Linked DNA regions of Homo sapiens. The protein of the gene in region 1 interacts with the protein of each later gene in a biochemical or structural test. Each region holds a gene or a part of one and is shown in the gene's direction. Other genes may lie near its edges.

The links.
Region 2: the proteins of NEO1 (region 1) and IGFBPL1 interact in a biophysical measurement, tested with the Homo sapiens proteins (one large-scale study listed by IntAct).
Region 3: the proteins of NEO1 (region 1) and LTF interact in a biophysical measurement, tested with the Homo sapiens proteins (one large-scale study listed by IntAct).
Region 4: the proteins of NEO1 (region 1) and IGFBP7 interact in a biophysical measurement, tested with the Homo sapiens proteins (one large-scale study listed by IntAct).

The regions. Positions count from the first base shown.
Region 1 is NC_000015.10:73,289,826-73,293,933, forward strand, and holds part of NEO1 (neogenin isoform 1 precursor), read left to right. Parts: intron 1-3,564; coding exon 3,565-3,723; intron 3,724-4,108. UniProt on the Homo sapiens protein: Multi-functional cell surface receptor regulating cell adhesion in many diverse developmental processes, including neural tube and mammary gland formation, myogenesis and angiogenesis.
Region 2 is NC_000009.12:38,421,546-38,426,161, reverse strand, and holds the start of IGFBPL1 (insulin-like growth factor-binding protein-like 1 precursor), read left to right. Parts: upstream 1-1,707; 5' UTR 1,708-1,737; coding exon 1,738-2,197; intron 2,198-4,616. UniProt on the Homo sapiens protein: IGF-binding proteins prolong the half-life of IGFs and have been shown to either inhibit or stimulate the growth promoting effects of the IGFs in cell culture. They alter the interaction of IGFs with their cell surface receptors.
Region 3 is NC_000003.12:46,437,623-46,441,110, reverse strand, and holds part of LTF (lactotransferrin isoform 1 preproprotein), read left to right. Parts: intron 1-1,630; coding exon 1,631-1,815; intron 1,816-2,981; coding exon 2,982-3,171; intron 3,172-3,488. UniProt on the Homo sapiens protein: Transferrins are iron binding transport proteins which can bind two Fe(3+) ions in association with the binding of an anion, usually bicarbonate. Lactoferricin binds to the bacterial surface and is crucial for the bactericidal functions.
Region 4 is NC_000004.12:57,040,601-57,044,708, reverse strand, and holds part of IGFBP7 (insulin-like growth factor-binding protein 7 isoform 1 precursor), read left to right. Parts: intron 1-3,775; coding exon 3,776-3,885; intron 3,886-4,108. UniProt on the Homo sapiens protein: Binds IGF1 and IGF2 with a relatively low affinity. Stimulates prostacyclin (PGI2) production. Stimulates cell adhesion. Acts as a ligand for CD93 to play a role in angiogenesis.

The DNA.
Region 1 (4,108 bases):
TATAATCCCAGCTACTCAGGTGGCTGAGGCATGAGAATCACTTGAACCTGGGAAGCAGAGGTTGCAGTGAGCCAAAATCGTGCTGTTGCACTCCAGCCTGGGTGACAGAGTGAGACTCTGTCTCAAAAAAAATAAAAAAAATAAAGCCAGGCATCGTGGCACACAACCTGTAGTCCCAGCTACCCAAGAGGCTGAGGCTACCCAGGAGGCTGAGATGGAAGGATTACTTGAACCCAGCGTTTAAGGTTGCATTGAGCTATGATTTTGCACCATTGCACTCCAGCTTGGGCAACAGAGCCAAGAGCCAGTCTCTAAATTAATTAATTAAAATAATAAAATTTAAAAATAAAATTAGTAGACTTTATATTTTAGAATAGCTTTAGGTTTTACTGTGTGGAATTTTTTTTTTTTTTTTTTTTTTTTTTTTGAGACAGAGTCAGAGTCTTGCTGTGTCGCCAAGGCTGGAGTGCAGTGTCACGATCTCAGCTCACTGCAGCCTCCACCTCCCGGGTTCAAGCAATTCTCCTGCCTCGGCCTCCCAAGCAGCTGGGATTACAGGTGCTCGCCACCACACCTGGCTAGTTTTTTGTAGACACGGGGTTTCACCATATTGGCCAGGCTGGTCTCAAACTCCTGACCTCAGATGATCCACCCAACTCGGCCTCCCAAAGTGCTGGGATTACAGGCCTGAGCCACCACCACCCGCCCAGCCGGAATTTTTTAAACAACATTTTTCATTCTTGATTCGTGCCTCACTTTGATAAGCATAAAGGTTTCTGAGCCTCTTTTAATAATAGTTGAAATTCAAAATAAATATCATGATTAAACCAGAAAGCAGTGGGACAAACCGATTCTTTCAAACTACTATGTCCTCTCTCGTCACTGTTTTCAAGGAAGTGAAGCCTTTCAGACTAGCTAGCACAGTGGGGCTTGCAGTTGAGGGAATTCTCAGCCATCTGTCAACAAACGATGCGATTTAATAGCCATGAATATCATACATGCAACGAGGTACACCATGACATCGTGCACTTGGAAAAGTTCCTCAAATCCCCAACCTCTTGGTGGAAGCTTCAAGCACGTGGATGTCTGCACACGCATTCCCTCTCCCACAAACACTGTACACAAACATGTAAGATACTGGATTACAAAAACCATCTTTGAAAGAGTAATACCCTATTTGTTAACAGGTAATTTCAGCTCAAAGTAGCTTATGCTTGTGGTCCTTGATGGAAAGAAAAGCCTGGACTTGGAAATGCAGGGGAAAACCATGGTTTCCCTCTTACAAGAGGTGCCCTGGATGGGGTTCCCAGGTTTAAAGATACAAATGCCCAAGAAGAGTAAATTAATCCATCCCAGTTGCTTCTGATTGATCAAGAAGATGCTAGCACTATACTCTTATTTGTTTGTTTTGTATAAGACTTGAGTTCCTACCTGAACTGGCTTATTTTGAAAACTTGTAAAATTTTACTATCTTTATTTCTAGATGTATTACTTTTAAATATGTTAAGTAAAAAAGATATGTTGTCCAGTTGATATCATTCTTCTTTTTTTGATGTTGGGGAAGGAGTTTGCACCAATATACAATATTATTTAATTTGTGCCTTAACAGTTGGGTGGGTAAGTGGAATCTTTTAAAAACCTGCAACCATAAGATCCACTTGTGGTCTTTAGGTTTTCAGATACTGTTTTTAAAACCCGCATGGCTACAGTTCTGTTTCACAAGCTGGTATTCCCTGAGCTCTGGGCCCTGGAATGCTGCAGGAGCCATATACCCACTCCCCACCTTCCCTGGTCTTAAATGACTGAGCAGTGCCAGGAAGGGTTTGCTGGTGCTGGGACATGGCTCCATCCAGGGCCATGCACTGAAGCAACAAGTTCAGAGTCAGCTAACAGCTGCTGATTTCCTACTATATCCTAGGCAGGCACATTCACACTGCTTTATTTTTTTTTATTTACTTACCTAGAAAGACTGGAAATGCCTTATAAAAGGGAAAAAGTCAATTTTGTTTTTCCCTTGTGAGAGTCCTAAAATGCTTTCAAATTGTACTTTCCTAGGTAAAAATCAGGTTTATTCCCCCTACCCCAGCCTGAATTCTGGAAAACACTGAGTCTGAAGCACCTACTTCTAAAAACTACCTGTCTTCCCCTAGAGTTGCTGACTCCCCAGTTACCTCAAGAGCCCTCCTCAGACAGCTTTCCTCTGTTGTTTTATTCCCGGGCACAACCTGGAGCCTCTGGTCCCCAAGAGCAGCACCTGAGGGAAAGCCCCTTTTTTGTTCCTCAGGCCTTGAGAAGGGAAGGAAGGGTCAGCAGTGCTCAAGGGTCCCAGTCATGCCACCTGCTTGCTTGCATGTGGCCAGGACAAGGGATAGCTGGAAAGTAAAGGCACCCATTTTGTTGACCAGGATTTCTTTTCACCAGAGTAATGTTGAATAGCCCCACAAAGACTTTAGGGAGATCCTTGGGGACAGAAGACATTTCAATAGGCCACTAAGTGTTAATTAAGTAGTATTATTAAGTTCATGAAGCCTTTGTTTGGAGAAAAAAAGATTCCCAGTATTGTTAGTCAGCTTTGGCCTATTTGCCTGTTTGGTGGGGGTAGAGCTGGTTATCTTGATCTTAAACGTGCCATTTCTACAACCACTCCAAGGGAGTTCCTCAGAAAAGTTTATTCTCAGACTCTGGGCTTCTAATTTTATCTGTTTCCATCTCAGATGGATAATGAAGCCTCATAGAAAGTAGTACATGGAATCTCTGTCTTCATAGAAAGTAGTATGTGAAATCTGTGTGGAAATTTCAGATTCTTTAGCTAAACGCAGTTAATTGAATCCTTAGCCAGTGTGGGAAGGAAAGAGCCATTTATTCTCTTACATGCAGATGGGTATGTCTGAGTCCCCAGACTGGAAGCAGTAAAAGATGGTGCCATCAGCCAGTGGTTCATGCTTTTAGTACTAGATGGGACCATCAGAGTTCAATTCCATTTGCATTTATTTTAAGACATGAAAGCCGATTAAACAGCTACTTATTTATTTGGCCTAAATACCCATTAAATGCTTCATTCAGCAGTTTTAACAAAGGCAGAATGAATTAGGAATGTACTCGAAAAAGAAGGGACTTCTTTCTATCCTTTTAGCAGGACAAAATAGAAAATTTATGTGTTGGCTTATGGATTTATATTTTGTGACATATTCAAATAGATACTTGTAATAACTCATGTAATCCATGTTTATTATAGTAGAATTGGAAAATACAGATAAGCCAAAAGAAAAATATTATTTTAATCCTGACCACTCTTCCCTGCAAGATAATAACTGTTAACATTTTAGTGTATATTCCTTTTTTTCTATATATATGTAGACATATGCAAAAGAGTATCTTCATTTTTAAAAAACAACGTAAAAATCAATGGCTAATTGACCAGATCTAGCCAGCTGCCACCAAAAAACCAAGGGAGTGTTTGGATTGTATGGGAGGTGGGAAGGGGGTGACTTTGCTCTTAAACTGTGATTTGTGTGTGTTTGTGCAAGCATGTTAAGCATTTCTCTGTCTTGTGTTCATTCACAGCTGTGATTAGTGCCCATCCCATCCATTCCCTCGATAACCCTCACCATCATTTCCACTCCAGCAGCCTCGCTTCTCCAGCTCGCAGTCATCTCTACCACCCGGGCAGCCCATGGCCCATTGGCACATCCATGTCCCTTTCAGACAGGGCCAATTCCACAGGTGAGAGATGAGGATCAAGCCCAGATGGAAACCATTCCAAAAGAGTCGGCAAGCAGAAATGGGGAAGGACTTGCCCTACTTAGAAGAGGGATTTGGAATTTTTCTGTTTTATTTAACTTAGCATAACATTTCTGTGACTGACTCAAATTTGTTTCTGTAAAATTCACCCCATATTTCTACTTAAGTTTTAAACATTCAGTGCAAGGTTTTCTTTTAGTAAAAACAGTATCTCTAATCACATAAGCATCCCTTGTTCCATAAACTTGCACTTTAACTCAGTCTTTTTTCCAATTTCTTTCTTTTAATCCTCTAGTTTGAAAGGAAAACTCATCCTGGGTGATTTCAGACACTAGTGGTTGCCTTTGCCTGGCAGTCACTGTAACAT
Region 2 (4,616 bases), on another chromosome or scaffold:
GCTATAGTAACCAACTCCAGGATGAAATCTTCACACATAGTGATCATTTTTTTAGGAGAGATTCCTGGAAGAGCACAGAGGGGTCAAGCGGTGAGAGCACTTTAAAAGGCCACTCCTGGTAAAGACAGCAGCCTCCAGGTTGAAAGTCACTGTTGATAGGTTCTGAGAGCTGCGCTGAGTGCATTACCAACATTGTTATATTTATTCCTTACCACCACCCCTTCATGGTGCCTAACCGCCCCTGCTCTGTGTGGCTGATTGTAAGGTAAGGCCTGGCGTGGACCAGGCAGATGGCCCTCCTCTGACCACCACATAAAGTGGCCTCAGAAGAGGCTCCTTTCTGGGGATAAGAAGACTGCAAACTGGGAAGGAACTGGGCTTGAAAAGCAAAATGAACCCCACCCAAGAACGGTGTAGCTGGTCTTCCCAGGCTGCAAGAGGCTTTCTCCATCTCCAGGAGTTCAGCAAAGAAAAAACAATAGAGCACAAGACACATGAGGGGTGGCCAGTAAAGGCAGGAAAAGTCTCCTATAAAACCTGCTCAGCGAGTCCCTCCCTCCATCCAGTGCATTTACCCAGCAACACATCAAATCCCAGCAGCCAAGACTCTCTTAGGTTTCTCGTCTGGGTGCCCTGCCAGAACTCAGGCAGGATGGTGTGCACAGAGCCTGGCCCAGAGAAGGCGCAACGGCGGCATGAATAACTGACTACAAGAAACTGCATCTTTCCAACATGCATTCCCCAGTAAGCCACAGGTACACTGACCCTTGTGCACCAAGACTTCATCAAAGCATTATTCGTATTAACCAAAGGATGGAAAATAAGTGGTTAAATAACTGCAACTAAACCCTGTGGAAAGGCCACTCTGTATGAACTCCAAAATATATCACCATATCTCATCACAACAAAGTCACTGTGGACGGAGATGTACCATGACTTTATGCAGCATTAAGAAACACACTCACAGAGCCAATGAACTATGCTCCCATTGATTGTATAAGAAACCCAGTTTCACAGATGACAAGAGGTGGGGAAACTGTGAAACACTGTAAGTGCAAAAACCAAGTGCAGACTAATGTGTATGGCACGCTACTCTGTGTGTGTGAGAGAGAAACAGAGTGTGTGTGTTTTAAAGGAAGGGGCTTTTTTAGGCACATGTACTTTTATAGGCATAGAGAAAATTTCTGAAAAGATATACAAAAACCCGATAGCAAGAGTGGCCTCTGGAAGCCGAGTTGGAGGATGGGGATACAAGGTGGTAGGGTAACCCTCTTTTCATCCTTAGATGTATATGTAAAATCTACATTTTAAACCATATATTCTCTTTATAAAATAAAACTTTGAAAACTACTGAATGCAAAATAAAATTAAATAAAATAGCGCATCCTTCTGGGAGGATTTACGGGCATACTATCTGGAGCCAGCCTTGGATCCGGAGACCGTACGGTTATCCAATCCTGACTCTGCCATAGCGACCTCGGGCAAGTTGTCGCCCCGACTGGGTCTCGGTTCCCTCAAGAGTCCAATCGGAGGTCGGAGAGCTGCTCTCGGGGCGACCCTCCAGCTCGGAGACCCGGGCCGCGGGCACCGCGCGGGTCCCGGGCTGGAGCAGCGGTCTGCGGGCGCCCCGCGGTGCAGGCCCGGCCAATCAGCGGCCGCGGGGCGGGAGCGGTGACTGCTCGGCGGGCGCGGAGCGGAGCGCGAAGCAGAGGCGCCGCCGCTGTCCCGGAGCAAGCCATGCCGCGCTTGTCTCTGCTCTTGCCGCTGCTGCTTCTGCTGCTGCTGCCGCTGCTGCCGCCGCTGTCCCCGAGCCTTGGGATCCGCGACGTGGGCGGCCGGCGCCCCAAGTGTGGTCCGTGCCGGCCAGAGGGCTGCCCGGCGCCTGCGCCCTGCCCGGCGCCCGGGATCTCGGCGCTCGACGAGTGCGGCTGCTGCGCCCGCTGCCTGGGAGCCGAGGGCGCGAGCTGCGGGGGCCGCGCCGGCGGGCGCTGTGGCCCCGGCCTGGTATGCGCGAGCCAGGCCGCTGGGGCAGCGCCCGAGGGCACCGGGCTCTGCGTGTGCGCGCAGCGCGGCACCGTCTGCGGCTCCGACGGTCGCTCGTACCCCAGCGTCTGCGCGCTGCGCCTGCGCGCTCGGCACACGCCCCGCGCGCACCCCGGTCACCTGCACAAGGCGCGCGACGGCCCTTGCGAGTTCGGTGAGTCAGGGTCGGGGATTGGGTGGGTAGAGAAGGAGGGATTCCAACCCTCTGGGGTGTGGAGCGAAGGATCCCCCTGCCCAGTGGTGGACGGCGCTGCCTGGCACTCAGTTTCCCCTTAGGGAGCAGTATTTCATATCTCTCCTCGTGCTCAGAGAGACTGGGGCGAGAATCCTTGGAGACGCCACTCACTGTGCTAGTCGAATTTTTGGTGAGCCTGCTACCCCTTTTGGTACTTAAGTACCTGCTGATGCAGTCACTTATTTGTAGGCATGGTATGTTTGCCCAGCAGGAGACTGGGAGTTAAGGAGGGGGATCCGAGTTCCCAGGTATCCAGCGCTAGGTGGATTGTTTGAATGGGGAGGAAGGGAAGTTGAGGTTGGGGGAGGAAGGGAAGTAGAGGATAGGGGAGGAAGGGAAGTTGAGGATGCAGGAGGAGGATGAGTTCCAGACTGGGGAATCAGTAGTCACCAGGCCACAGCACCAGAGCACCAGGGCCCCCGGTGTGGGAAGGGGCTGAGCTGGGATGCTGAGGGAGCTCCATCCAGGAGAAGTAAGACCTTTGGAGACGTAAGGTCTGAAAAGATTGTGGTGCTATTAGGGGCAGACTCAGGTTTCGTGCTTCTAAAACATATATAATTTGGAGAGTCCTGCCTTAAGTAAAGGAATAGAACTGCTAGGGACTTAGAAACTTATTATGAAATGCTAGGGACTTAGAAACTTAAGCTTCATTAACATCACAGTAAAATAATCTCTGAGTGCTATAGTTGCCCACCCTCTTTATGTACCTTTTGAAAACCAAACAAAAAGAAACCAAAACGTTAGCACTGCTTTACCGGCTTCCTAAGCATGAGTGTATTCCACCCACTAGGTTTTGAAGTGCCGCTGTGTACTTTGCCTGGAGTGGGCAGTGCTGAGTTTAGGGTGAGTGAGAAGGTGGCCAGTGAGTCCCAAGGAGCCTGGGTTTCGGCCTGGAGTTCAGGCTTCTGGGAAATAATTCTGGCCTGAGCCCAGAGACCAAGTCCAGACTTTAGTGCCTAAGTCAGTGTAATGACTTAGCTTCAAGAAAGAAGCCTGGGGTGGGGTGAGACCTTTCCAAGCCTTAAGAAGTATCTAGTAGTCTTTCCTCTCAAGTAGTTCAGGTAGATGTACCCAAGTCCAGGAGACGCAATGGGTTGTTGGAGATGGGGCAGGAAGCCTCCAGTCCTGGGAAATGTAAAACCAGTGTGTGGCCAGTTGAGCACAGGAAAGTCACCATTGGCTGTTCCTAGCTGAAGCTCCCCATGGAGGACAGAGCTGGCTGGGGGTGCATCTGTGCTGCCGCTGGCTCCCTGAGTGGCCCTGGACGGGTCCCTTCCCCTCTCTGGCCATATCAGCCCCAGTGGAGTCATTGTTGAGGTCCCTTTCACTCGGAACAGTTGGTTTCCGCCCTGTGGCACTTAAACAGTCCTGTCTCTTTCCTTTTGCTAGTTCCTATCACTCGTTTTTATAACTGCTTTCCTCAGCCGTTAATTCACAGGCAATTCTCTTTGTCTCCAGACAGGTAACACTTTTAACTCCACATGCAGGAGACAGAAGAAATGCTGACCAGGTCCTCAGACTATAAATGCTGCTGATGATCTCAGATAATTTCTCCCCAGAGTGGCATTCTCTTCCTAAGAGAAAGGCACCTTAAAGACATTCAGACCAAATCTGCTGTTATACAGAGAAAGAGACTGAGACACAGCAAGGTCAGAGCCCTTGTCCAGGGTGACCAGTAAAGGATGACCAGCTCCCTGGTCCCAACACCCTGTCCAGTGCTCTTTTGGCACAGGACTTAATAGTATTAAGTCAGGCAGATGGTGGTTACCATGGTTACCAGAGTGAGGCCAGATGGCAGATGGAAACTCCATACCCCTAATTCACTGAAAATTACCAAATGACAAGTAAATGTGACAGCCCCTTCACTCTGATCTATGGGATCTGAGGCCCACCCCAGGCACAGACCCAGGGAATAAAGATATTCGTGGGGCCACATGGAAGCAACTCAGAACTGGTTTTCATGATCTCATTACTGACAGGCGTCAGGCCTCCCCGGGGTTCAGCCCTTCTTCCGCACCAGCCTTTGTGTCATCCACCACAGAACCGGGCACTGTTTGCCTGTCACTCTCTGTCCTGAAGTGCTAGTGTGGCCTCTGCCCTTGTGTCCAGATAAAGCATGAAGGTTTGGACAGGGGATGTTTCCTAGCCCAGGCAGCAGCTCATTCTGTGCTGCCCTAAAGCCATCTTTTATTCACAAGACACAGCGGGAGCGTTTTTTAACAATGCCTCTGGGGATCCCGGTTGAAGGAAAACAGACTGTGAGTCAGAGCAGGGCTGTTCTGCTTCAATATTCATGATAAAATCACCCCTCCTGACTCCTTGGGTACCCAAGCACCTA
Region 3 (3,488 bases), on another chromosome or scaffold:
ACCACAGAAACACACTGTCTGCCCACATGAGATCATGCATGCCTATTGGAAACTGTGGATGATGCTACAAACTGGGTGAACATATGCAAATGAAGCCTCCCTTTATGAAAAAGGAAGTAGAGGCCTTCATTCATCCCCATGTGAGCCTTGGTCTGGAGACTCCTTGGGAGTTAGTGGGAACAAAATTACAGGTGGTTGCAGATGATGGAAGATAATCTTCCAGCCAATGTTTGAACAATCACTCTCTCTCCTGGTCCTCAGCCATTTGCTACCTTCCAATCTGCATCTGTCTCCTTAGCCCCACTTCAGCATTCCAACCCCCAAGTCTCAGCAGGTGACTTGCTATTCTGTTTCCTGAGAAAGAACTGTCTCCACTTTCGGCCTCCCTCCTTCAGTAATCACTGCAGTCTCAGCCACTTCTCCCTTCTGCTTCTGCTCCTTCTAGTGTCTCTTGGGACAGAGATTAAAACAAGACATGTAAATTTGAAATTATTTCAATATCAAATAGAGGAATCCAAGAGAATGAATAAAGTGCTTTCTTAAAGGGAGAGAGCAGAGAGACAAACGGGAGCCGGAACAATGAGCCGGCATCTGCACAAACATAGACATGCATACAATTACATTTAGAATTTACAAGCCATTAACTGAAGTAATCTCCAGGGATCAGATTGATGTCAAATTTAATTTTAACTTTCTCCGGTACTTTACAACTGTATTTTGTTAGAATTGGCTGTATATATTTGATAAACCTATAAAAGTTCCTTTCCTTTCTCTGGTTACACTAATAGCATTTGAATATGAAAGGGAGGAGAAACCAATTTCTCCTTGAATGTAAACCATCTATTCTTTTTCTGGAACTCACTGAAAAATATGGCATAGGTGGAGGGTTTTCTTCTTTAAAAAAATAAGAACTCTAAACAGCTTTATTGAGGTAGAATTCATATACTAAAAAATCCACCCATGCAAAGTGTACAATTCAGTGATCTCCAGCACATTCACAGAGTTGTGCAGCCATCAACACAATCCAACTCTAGAACGCTTGTATCCTCCCATAAAGAAACCCTTGCACCTATTATCAGTCATTGCCCTATCCTTCTTCAGCATTGGCAACCATCAATCCACTTTCTGTCTCCATAGGTTGGCCTATTCTGGACATTTCATATAAATGGAGTCATATAATATGTGGTGGGTTTTTTTTTTTGAGATGAGGTCTTGCTATGTTGCCCAAGCTGGTCATGAACTCCTAGCTTCAAGTGATTCTCCCACCTTGGCCTCCAAAGGGCTGGGATTACAGGCATGAGCCACCGTGCCCAGCCTATTGTGTGGTCTTTTGTGACTGGCTTCTTTCACTTAGCATCGTTTTCGAGGTTCATGCATATTGCAGGATGTACCAGAACTTCACTCCCTTTTATTGCTGAATAACATTCCATTGCATGGACACAGCACTAATATTTGGTATATTTGAAGTTTGTACAGCTTGTGTAGGATGAAGCTCCTTCTCTGTTCCTCACATCACCACAACCCCAGTGTGTGCATTTGGGAGGTCAGTGGAATGGCCACACCCACCCAGAAGAGACTTCTTGGCTAAGCAGGGGAGGCGTGGATGATGCCACCTTCTTTTTCTCCCCAGGAAATAACAATGAGGCATGGGCTAAGGATTTGAAGCTGGCAGACTTTGCGCTGCTGTGCCTCGATGGCAAACGGAAGCCTGTGACTGAGGCTAGAAGCTGCCATCTTGCCATGGCCCCGAATCATGCCGTGGTGTCTCGGATGGATAAGGTGGAACGCCTGAAACAGGTGTTGCTCCACCAACAGGTATGGACCACAGGGCTTCTAGTGCTTTCTTAGCTGTGTGGGCTCATGTTAGGTGAGGAGATCACAGAGCTAGGTGCACCAGCCCACTCGATCCTCTCTAGTCCTCTACTTGAAGCTCATGGTGAGAGTATTGGCTTCATGCTGTGGCGTTGCCCAGAGTGTCAACAAGAACAACAGAGGCTTTTGACTCTGGGCTTTCTGGGACTCACTCCATTTCTGCTGAGACTCTGTGCCCTGGCCTTGTTGCCATCACTGCCTGGCTCAGAGGCTGTCTTTTTCCCTCCTGCTGTTCTTCTGGCAAATGAGGAAGCCACTGAGCCTTCCTCCCACATGCATTAGTATAGTGCTTTTTACTCAGGTGACATTTCCTGAACCTGGGCCGAGTGAACAGTGCTCTAGGCCAGGCCTCTAAAACAGCAAACTCAGAAGGTGCCCTATAGATTTAGGGCTCTCTAAATGTGATTTGAACGAAATCCCAAAATTTTCTTAAAATCTGGGATTTTATTAGAACTTCTATTTTTATCATATAACATCATGTCTCTGTGTGCTTTTGAAGAAAACAACTCAGGAATAACAAGACTGGCCACCATAACTGGCCTTTATGGAGCTCTTAATGTGCACACACAGTGGTGCTGGTGAGAGAGCTGCCGTGACTGAGGGGTTTGGGTCTCAGTCTCCCCACATGGGAGCCTGGGACAGAGCAGGAACTGTGTGAGGGAGGCAGGGTGACCGACCTGCACACTGAGCTGGTTAGTGGCTGAGCCTGGGTTTTCCTAGCAGCCTGCCTCTCTAGAAGAGCTGCATATTAGAATGTCCTGAGCAATTGACTTGTGAGGGCAGATCTCAAAACCCCTCCATTGTTGCCTTGTCACCCATAAGAAGTTGTATGGGAAAAGGTCACAGGTTAAGAAGGAAGGAAAGATGGCAGATGGTAGGAGGTAGGACCAGAAGTGGTGCGAGGCCTGGATGCTGCCCAAGGCGGGCCTGCCACCAGGAGTGTGGGGTGGGGGACTCCACTAAGGAGGTGGAATGACTCCAGAACTCAGCTCCTTCTGCCCCATGGTTTTCTCAGGGCTGTTCTTGGGTGGAAGAAATACCCCTTTGCCTCCTTTAACCCATAAATTCCTCTTTTCCTTAGCTACTCACTGTCTGCCCTTTTGTCGCAGGCTAAATTTGGGAGAAATGGATCTGACTGCCCGGACAAGTTTTGCTTATTCCAGTCTGAAACCAAAAACCTTCTGTTCAATGACAACACTGAGTGTCTGGCCAGACTCCATGGCAAAACAACATATGAAAAATATTTGGGACCACAGTATGTCGCAGGCATTACTAATCTGAAAAAGTGCTCAACCTCCCGTAAGTAGACCCTAGCTAGCATCCCCGAGAAACCACCATGGGTGAAGGTCAAGGTTTGAGGGCCAAACAGCATTCTAGGAACGAACACAGGTGTAAAAATGTTAAGGAAAGATAATATCTCTTTACAGTTCAGGAAATTATAATCTCATTGATAAAATAATTAGAGAATAAAATAGAGCAGTATGTAATAAATTTTTATAAATTTTATAGTACGGATAGTGATGGCACTGTCATGAAATCTTTGGAAACTGATAATCCATTTTATTCAGTAAAATGAAAGGTGCATATATACATATGCATTGAGAAATGACAAAACC
Region 4 (4,108 bases), on another chromosome or scaffold:
GGAAAAGAACAGAGAGTCCAGAAATAGACGCACACATATACAGTGGGTCTTACAGATTTCCACAAAGGCATTATTATGATTCATTAGGAAAAAGATGGTCTTTTCAACAAATGGTGCTGAAGCAATTGGATGTCCTTTTAGGGGAGGAAAAATGAAACTTGACCTCTGCCTCATAGCACACACAAAAATTAATTCAAGATGGAGCAAAAACTTAAATGTGAAAAGTAAAACCATAAAGCTTGTAGAAGAAAACAGGAGATCTTCATAGCCTTGGGCTAGGCAAAAATTTTCTTAAACAGGACACGAAAAGCACTAACCACAGAAAAGAAAACTTGATAAATTGGACTATACTAAAACTAAGAACATCTGTTTTAAAATCCCATGGGAAAAATCCATAGCATGTCTTCAAGATCTCTGGCAGAAAATCAGGCTGGAACTTGCCCATTAGCACTCCAGAATCTGCCCCCTGCCCAAGACCGATGACCCTGCTACCTGTATTGGCAATAGGGAGATGGACACAGGTTAAAGTAAGTAGGTTTTGGCAGGGCTGAGGCCCTCAGATCCTCACAATAAAATTGTCTTGCATTCCTTGTGTGGTTTGGATATGAGAGAAGCAGCTTTGTTCCCGAGCTCCCCCTCAAATCTCTGAAAACTGGTATGCTCTTCTCAGAACAATCCTTTGAGATCCCCTGAGCTTTGAAGTCCTCCTGCCAAGTCTGTGTGTGGGAAGGAGAACAGAGCAGCATGAGGGCCATCAGAGAGGTGGGCGAAGGCAGTTCAAAGCCCAGCCAGATCCGGCTCTGTGGTGTCCAAACCCTTGGGGTCCCATAGCCCTAGAGGAAGCCCGGGATAGGGTGAGGCCCAGCCCTTTGCAGGGTTCTGTATTGCTGCATCCAGACTAGGAAATGTCTGAGACAGAGCCAGAAACGTAAATACTGCACCACTGTGCTCACCACATTCATGTTTGCAGCAGAAGAGCCAAGCCCCCTGGCCAGGATATATGCTTCCTATTCAGACCTATGGTTTGGAGGGAAGGAAGCATGAAATGTATTTAGAGCTTTCCAAACTTTTGATTGTTTTGCACATTCCTACAAAAATAAAAATATCCCATGAGATTAAAAAAAATCAGCTTCTAATGCTTTAGATGAGTGGGAAAATCTTGCACACTGGGGTCATTTCCTTTCTGTTTCAAGAAATTAATATTGTGCTGGAAATAGCCTGTTGCAGAAGGGGAGACTTTATGTCCTTTGAATGCTGATTATGCCAGAAAACTTTCCAGTCCTAAAGGGGAGGTTGTCCCTTTCCCAGGACTCTGATGCAAGATGACCCTGCAGTTTGTACTTTGCTAGGATAGGAGACCCAAGTCAGCAGAGATTTAAAATTCAGAAGGGATCATTAATTTATTCATTCAAGAAACCATGCTAAGCATGGAATAAGAGCCAGGTTAGGTTCTGGAGTCTCACACTGCCCCACATGAGGATCCCAGACTGCCAGCTCCATGACCCTCCTCTGCGGACGGTCCCAAGTCTTTCTGAAGGCCCCTGGTGATTGAACCCTGGCATTCAGAATTAGCAGAAGTGACATACTAATTACCAGTAACTAAAAAGTTGGTGTTCACATCTCTATTGCAGATGCCGGGAAGCCAGGCCGTCAGGGGACAGGCGCAGTCAGCAAGCACCCGCTCTCTCGGTATCTGTTGGCTTCCACAGTTTTGTGTTTCAGAGCCAAACCAGAAATCACCCAGGGGGTTACTTGCATCAGCTCTGGAAAATGTGTAAAGGATTGAAGTCCTGAGACTTTCCCATAATGTCTTATTTAGGCATCAGTCTCCCTCAGTTGATTAGAGCAGGAATCAGCAAATTTCTTTATAAAAGGCCAGTGACAGTGACTATTTTAGCCATACAGTCTCAGCCACAACTGCTCTAGCAGCCAGAGACCACAGGAAACAAATAAGTGTGGCTGTGTTCCAACAGAACTTTATTTTATGGACATTTCCTTTACAATTTTCACACGTCATGAAATATCCATCTTTTAATTTTTTTTCAACCATTTGAAACTGCAGGCCGGGCATAGTGGCTCACGCCTGTAATCCCAACACTTTGGGAGGCCAAGGTGGGGGGATCGCTTGAGCTCAGGGGTTCGAGACCAGCCTGGCCAACGTGGCAAAATGCTGTTTCTACTGAAAACACAAAAATTAGCTGGGCATGCACTTGTAGTCCTAGCTACTTGGGAGACTGAGTCATGGGAATTGCTTGAGCTTGAACCCGGGAGGCGGAGGTTGCCGTGAGCCAAGATCATGCCACTGCACTCCAGCCTGAGCAACAGAGTAAGGTTCTGTCTCAAAAAAATAAAATTTTTCTTAATTTAAAAAAACAAAAATCCAAACACCATTCTTAGCTCATAAGCCATGCAAAAACAGATGGCAGGCCAGATTTGGCCCACAGGCCATAGTTAGCTAACCCAGGACCAGAGAGTCATACCACTTTCATAGCAAAAAGGATACACATGGTTTGTGTTGACTCTGAGTAGGGAACTTCTCCAGAGGGTGCCATGATACAGAAGGTGGGGGGTGTGTTCCCTAATTGGGGGAATGGAGAAGCATCATTCTGGCCTCTCTCAGTGGCCCCATACCTGCTGACTCTATTTAGGCCGTGGCTTGAGGGTGCCCCCCACTTGCCAATGCCTCCTGCCAGGGACCTGGACACTGAGAACGCTGGGAAAGGGCCCTCTCCTTGGGGACCCTGGTCACACCCAATAGATCAGTCACTCTTCTTCCTTCTTACCAGCTGCCTCTCCTGAGCACACTGGAAGAAGGACCCCTGTACCACCTTCCTCGACACCCGGGCCTCTTCTGTTCAAAGGTGCCTCCTGGCCAGGCATGGTGGCTCACACCTGTAATCCCAGCAGTTGGGGAGGCTGAGGCAGGAGAATTACTTGAAGCCAGGAATTCGGGACCAGCCTGGGCAACATAGCAAGACCCCGTCTCTACAAAAATAAAAAATAAAAATTAACTGACATGGTGGTGCACGCCTATAGTCCCAGCTACTCGGGAGGCTGGGGTGGGAGGATCGCTGGAGACCAGGAGTTTGAGGCTGCAGTGAGCTATGATCAAGCCACTGCGCTCCAGCCTGGGTGGCAGAATGAGATTCTGTATCAAAAAAATAATAATAAAATTAAATTAAAAATAAAGATGTCCCTTCCAATCCCCTGACGCACACAGCACTCCACATGTTTCTTTTCTTCCCTGCCTCATCACCCTTTTCAACCTTAGATCCTAAGCTTCTTGAGGCAGAGACTTCCATCTTGTCTGGGTGCTTAGCACATTTTCAAATATTCTCTTAGATTTTTTTTCTTCATTACCCATGGAGCGGTTGCTTGTTGCCTTTCCAACCCAAAATAGAAATAGTGGTAAACAAAAGAAGAAAAACATTGAACATTTTGGAACTAAAATTTTATTACTACTGGAAAAGTCCCAGATAATAAAAAAACAGCTGGTAAATTAGCACTCATTTAAGCATGGTCTGGGGAAGAAGAAAATTTTAATAACACATTTTTCTTCCTAATTGTTTTTGTTTGTTTAGATTTATGCATTCCCAAAGTGGACCTTAAAATCATGTTGGTGGCAGGAGGAAGCCAGTGTGGTCTTTGAAATTTGCTTCAGATAATCCATCAAGGGGATGGCCTCATAAACAAAATTATTATTTTCTCCCTAAGATGCTGACTCATGTGAAGGACTGTTTAAAAGATGACTTTGGCTTTGTGCCCTCTCCTGCAGGTCCTTCCATAGTGACGCCCCCCAAGGACATCTGGAATGTCACTGGTGCCCAGGTGTACTTGAGCTGTGAGGTCATCGGAATCCCGACACCTGTCCTCATCTGGAACAAGGTCTGTGGCACAGACTTTAAGAGACATCCTAGGCTGACAAGCTTCTCTTGCACTGCACAAGGATGGTAAAACGTTAAATCCTCAGCCTGCTTTGTTGACTGCGGCTCCCGCAAGGTGAAGCCTTAGGGCAGTCATACAGGCCCCTCCCCTGGATTCATGGAACAAAAACCAGTCCCTGCCATGCTTTTGTTAGCAGCATCCTAGAATCTGAGAAACTGGAAGA